Regions from separate parts of the Homo sapiens genome. Here region 1 is linked to region 2. The links come from fine-mapping of genetic effects on gene expression. A gene starts in region 2. The other region holds a variant in brackets. All regions are shown on one strand. Distances are from middle to middle.

Region 1 (2,911 bases), 87 kb after region 2:
CGGGTTCAAGTGATTCTCCTGCTCAGTCTCCCAAGTAGCTGGGATTACAGGTGCGCGCCAGCACACCTGGGTAATTTTTTTTGGTATTATTAGTAGAGACTGGGTTTCACCATGTTGGCCAAGCTGGTCTCAAACTCCTGACTACATTTCATACCTTAAGACCACTCTGCTTCTTTGGATATAGCTGCTTGCAATTCTGCTGCTTTGCCTAATGTCCTGTGATACTTTGCTGCTTTTTAAAAAACCTTTGTTTTTCACAGCAGTGCTCCTTGTCCTAAAATATGTTGAAATTGTGGAATAAAAAGTTTAAGACTTTTCCAGTTTGAAAACTCTTCTTACATGTTAAAAAATGATAGTCTTGTATAAAATGAATGTTTTAAATCTTACATTTATCTTGATCTGCTTGGGTTTAGATTGTCTGCCTCTGTTACCTTATATAATCATTGTGTTTTTCATGTTTATGAGAAATAAAAGAAAAAATAAATGATTGGGCCCTAGGAAAAATCCTTTTTTTTTTTAAATAACAAAGTATTCCGTTTAATGTTCCTTTTAATATATTGCCAGTGAAATATCTCGTAAGTAGCTTCTTCTTGTAAGAAAGTTAGCTATATTTGTAGCCTCTTTAATTGAAAGAAAAGGTTCTAGCTGACCTGCAGAATTAGACATCAGGGTACCTTTTCTGGTGAACCTGGAGCTTTGTTCAGAGATCAAGAAAACAAGCTCTTTATTGGGCATTTGCCCTAAGGCAACATTAACTTAATAGATATTTTCTTCCTGTAATTTGCTGATCTTTGTATTTAAGTTTGGAAATAGCAATATTCATAAATGGGTACCTTTGGTTGTAGTATTGTTCCATGCTTTCATACCATTTAAATGGTTCATCAAGATAAAATATGTTATTGTAGTCAGCAAGATTGGTTAGAATAGTGCCCTGAATATCAGTAGCTCTGTATTCTAGTTTCAGCAACTCAGTGACTCCAATATGTGCTTGAGTAAATCAGCTCATTTCTTTACTTCTCAAAGTCTTAGGACTGTTGTGATTGAAAGCTTATTGCTTTGTTTTGCCATAATTTACTATCTTTTTAGCTTTTTAATGCTCGTCTGTTATACCGACTCTTTGACTTAACATAGTTTTTTACCTGGTGTGTATAATGCCGCATGTATATGTTTGTGGATAAATGTAAATTCTCCTGCAGGAAGAACATCAGATTCTTAATCATGAAGAT[A/AC]CCCCCCCCCCAGCCCACAATTTCCAACTCACTCTTCCAGTTTCTTGATCACTCCCTTTTCCTCTAATTATCTAAGAAACTAATGGCTTATTAGGTTCACTTTTTTCTCCTTACCAGCCCAAACTGTACTGTCTGGTCCCTTATTTTTCTGCCACACTTGCCCTGTGAATCCCCTCAACTTTAAATTAATTTAGGAATACAATTTAGATTGCCAAGTACAGTTTTGGAGATTGATGCCACGACAAATTAATGATATCAAAATTTATCAGACTCAGCAATTTTATTTATCTCTGGTCTATGTCCTCATACATTCCTTTTACTTCTTTCATCAACCCCTTAGCAAACTTTGCCTTTCATGTTCTCAACAGATTAATTTGCTTCTGTTTCACCAAACAAATATGATTCTGTATGTAACTGGAGATGATAATCCCACTTAACTCTCTTATTCCTCCTCCCTTCAAACAAACTTGTCTGTAGCTGAATCCATTCTCATTTTTTAATTGAAAGGAAAAAAGATCCGTCTTCTCTAAGGCTAAGTTTTCTGCCAGTATGCTACATATTTTTGACTACTCCTTCCTTCTAAAATTTAAATAGATGAACTGGCTGCTGCTTTGACAATACCCTTTCCTAGTTTATGTGTACCTCTGTTTCTCTTTGAGGCCTTTGTCTTCCATCCATTTCTTTCTTTCTTTTTTTTTTTTTAAGACGGAGTCTTGCTCTGTTGCCAGGCTGGAGTGCAGTGGTGCGATCTTGGCTCACTGCAACCTCTGTCTCCCAGTTCAAGCGATTCTTCTGCCTCAGCCTCCTGAGTAGCTGGGACTACAGGTGTGCACCACCACGCCCAGCTAATTTTTGTATTTTTAATAGAGACGGGGTTTCACCATGTTGGCCAGGATGGTCTCAATCTCCTGACCTCCTGATCCGTCTGCCTCAGCCTCCCAAGATGCTAGGATTACAGGCGTGAGCCACTGCACTTGGCCCATCCATCCATTTCTAAATATTTATCTTCCCCAGAGTACCAGTATCATCTTCTACATGCGTTTTGTGGATAGTCTCATCTGAAACCTTTGCTGTTGACACCAAAGCTGTATCTTTATTTCTAGCCCAGACCTCCCTCCTTTATTCTAAAATCACATTTTCAAGTGTGGACTAGACTAGAATCTAAGTATAAATTTGTTCAAAATTTTACTAATTTTCTTTTTTTTTTTGTTCCCTGTCTTGAATAATCATGCTGCCTCCACCTGATTTAAGCCGGCTACTCAGACATTACCCTGAATCCCTTCCTTCTCCCTACTCCTGTTCATCCCCAACTGCTTTCTGTTTCTAGAATTATTCCTATATTTTCCTAGTACCTTTGTAGTTTAAACCAATTGTTCTCAAGTACATCAGACCTAATATCCCATTTATGCAACATTCTGTAACACTTCCTTACTCTTAAAATGATAGTAACCTACATTATTTTTAAAAATCTATGTAATTTCTTAAAGGAGATATATAAGAAAAATATTGTACATTTTATATGTTATGTAAATGCTTAGGCACAATGATATTAGAAAAAAATGAAGAATTTATTATACATTTTATGTTTCAGTATTTAAGTGTTCAGGCACAATACCAGAAAGCAATGAAGAGCAAAAGTTTGTACATATGTCCTCATGAATGTGATTGTTAGAAGTGCAAACTGA
Region 2 (2,911 bases):
ATCAAGGTGTATTTATTGCACAGGCACAATAAATGAACAAGGCATCTTAAGTACTACAATGACAGGTGAGTGGGTCAGGCACAGTGGCTCACGCCTGTAATCCCAGCACTTTGGGAGGCCGAGGCAGGCAGATCCCTTGAGCTCAGGAGTTCAAGAGAAGCCTGGGCAACATGGCAAAACCCCATCTCTACTAAAAATACAAAAAACTAGCTGGGTGTGGTGGCACAGGCCTGTAGTCTCAGCTACTTGGAAAGCTGAGGTGGGAGGATGGCTTGACCCCAACAGGTTGAGGCTGCAGTGAGCCAAGATTGCACCACTGCTCTCCAGCCTGGGCAACAGGGCAAGACCCTGTCTCAAAACAACAACAACAACAAAATCACAGATGAGTAAGACACAGGTCTTTCCCTAAACAAGGTTACAGTCTAATGGGCAGAAGGGCTAGGACAGGGACTCAGATGAAATAATGCCAGGTAGAATGTGATCAGTGCCCCTGGAGGTGTGGCAAGCCAACACTGTGAGGAATCAGCGGCAGGAAGATCATATCAAATCACGAGGCTCCAGAAAAACTACGAGGGTCCAGGAATGGTGGCTCACGCTTGTAATCTCAACGCTTTGGGAGGCAGAGGTGGGCTGATTGCTTGAGCCCAGGAGTTCAAGACCAGCCTGGACAACATGATGAAACCCTGTGTGTACAGAAAATACAAAAATTAGCTGGGCATAGTGAGCTGTGCCTGTAGTCCCAGTTACTCAGGAGGCTGAGGTGAGAGGATCGTTGAGCTAGGGAGGCTGACGGAGGTCGAGGCAGCAGTGAGCTGTGATCATGCCACTGCATTCTCCTGGGCTAAAGGGCAAGCCCCTGCCTCAATTAAATAAAACAACAACAACAACAAAATAAAAAACTACCAGGAAGGGCCATGAGGCACAGAAGGATTGCATCAGGCGGAGATAGGAGATGAGAAGAGAGACATTTCAAGGTGATATATAAAGAACTACCAGGGGGTGAGGAAGCATATGGGGAGATGTGTGGAGACACAGCCTGAAAGTCTTGAAGTCACATCACGGAGCCTTGAATGACCGACCGAGGCGCTGACACTCAAGAGAGGCAATGGGAAGCCAGTGAAGGTTTGTGTGTGTGTGTGTGCGTGTGTGTGCAGAGAAATAGTAGCATTAGAGATGATTCCCAGGCAGGGTGACTGGGCAGCCAAGGGAAAGCGCTGGCCTGTGCGGGATGAGGCAGTTGGGTTCTGGAGAGCACAAGCAATCATTCGGTGCTGCCCATCAGACAACTGAAAAATCTGATCAGAGGCAGTGGCTAAGTCCCCGCCTGGGAACACAAAGGAAGCCTAAGGTTCTGGTTATCACCCTCAGGGGACCGTGACCTTGAAAGAGTAAGGATAGTACCAGCCAAAACCAATGCAGCCAAGAGGAAAAGTCACAGAGAACAGCGAGGGGAGGTGGAAGTTTCAATACAGAAATTGTAGCCATGGCTGAGAACCCCAGCACTGGAGGCCGGAATTTGTGCGTTTGAACGCCAGAGGCTTGGCTAGTCATGATTAGCAAAGGAACTTCAAAGAGTTTTGGAGCCTGCTTTATATCTGTGAAATGGGAATTATTTCCATCTCAAAGGTTTGAGGGGATTCGCTGAGAGAAACTTCTTAGCATGGGATCTCCAGAAACTGGAAGCCACAGAGAAAGCAGCGGCCAGAGGGAGGAGGAATCGGACAGGCTGATCACTTGGAGTGTTCGCCTAAGCAGTTTCTAGAAATGGAGGCAGGGACCATCAGGAAGCTCAAAACCTTTGCTTCAGCCGAGTTTGCAGAACGCCCTGTGAGGAGAATGGGTGAGCTGGGTCGAGGAAGCTTCATCCTCGTCCCCATCCCCCAGCACTGCCCTTTTCCCAACGCTCCCATCCCGCCACGCCTCCCAACATACCCCCACCCCGACTTCCCGCTCAACTCCCGCTCCAGCCAGTCCCAGGAGCCACATGCGCATGCGCCCTCCCGCGCCCCTCCCCAACTTTCCACGTTTCACTCCTCTCCCTTTTCCTCCTCAGCTCCGGCTCCGCCGCCACGATTGGCCAGCCGACCACCCGGCCTCGGCCAATAAGCGCCGCCCTCTCGCCCCCGTGTTACTGGGTAGAAGAAAACAAAAACAAACAGAGCGAGAAGGGCCAGAGACTCTCCGAGGCGGCGGCAGAGACAGAAGAGCGGGGTCGGGGCCGGCTGACCAGGAACCTGGGCGAGCAGCGGCGGGGGCCCGAGGGGTCAGTACCAGTAGGCGCGGCTCACACGCTCGGGAAGACTGCGCCCTCTCCCCCATCCCTCCTCGGAGGCAGCCGCAAGATGGGAGGGGGCGGGGGCGGAGGCGTGGGGGTCGCGGTCCTGTCAGGTCCGGGCCTGCGGTGCGGGGGTCCGGCTGCCTTCTTGTAGCCCCGCAGGTCCAGCCGCGCCCTCCCCAACGCCCCGGACTGCGGGCATCCGGCCTGGTTCCCTCTTTCTGAGCCCAGCCTGGAGCGTGTCGGCGCGGGCCCGCCCCCTCCCGGAGCCATCTCCCCACTGAGAGGGGCGCGCGAGGCGCTCGCCCTTGAAGGTCCCCCTCAGCCCTCCTCCCCCTCTGGCGGAGGTTGAATTCGGGGGCCGGGATTGGAAGGCGTGTTTCCGGCTGGACTGAAATCCTGTGAGGAAGATTCGCGCCCTCCCCGCCCCCTGCCCTCCCTGGGAATCCTCTGAAGATGCGGCCCCCTGTCCTTCGTGAACCCGGAGCCCCGGCCTCGGCCCCGGCCCAGCCCCTTCCGGGGGCCGACCCGGGCTGGGACTTCGGGGGTCCTAGCCTGAGCCCGCTGCGGGAGAACAGGCCCGGCCGCTGTGGGGAGGGGCCGCGCGCTATCCTCGCCGGGGGCGCTGGGAGGCGA

What was found. PIP is the estimated chance that this variant, and not a neighbour inherited with it, causes the effect.
Region 1: its variant is fine-mapped to the expression of PDCD4-AS1 in whole blood (INTERVAL, PIP 0.99).

What each region holds. Positions count from the first base shown.
Region 1 is chr10:110,956,306-110,959,216 of GRCh38, forward strand. All of the region lies in intron 1 of SHOC2 (SHOC2 leucine rich repeat scaffold protein), which reads left to right. Among named protein-coding and RNA genes, the nearest start is that of MIR548E, 31 kb to the right of the region's middle. The variant A/AC (reference allele first, on the strand shown) is at 1,227.
Region 2 is chr10:110,869,756-110,872,666 of GRCh38, forward strand. It overlaps PDCD4-AS1 (PDCD4 antisense RNA 1), which reads right to left and starts at 1,149. Exons shown (of 1, transcript NR_026932.1): 1 at 1-1,149. It overlaps PDCD4 (programmed cell death 4), which reads left to right and starts at 2,173. Exons shown (of 12, transcript NM_014456.5): 1 at 2,173-2,263. RefSeq lists an enhancer at 671-1,281 and silencers at 2,286-2,335, 2,366-2,515, 2,726-2,911.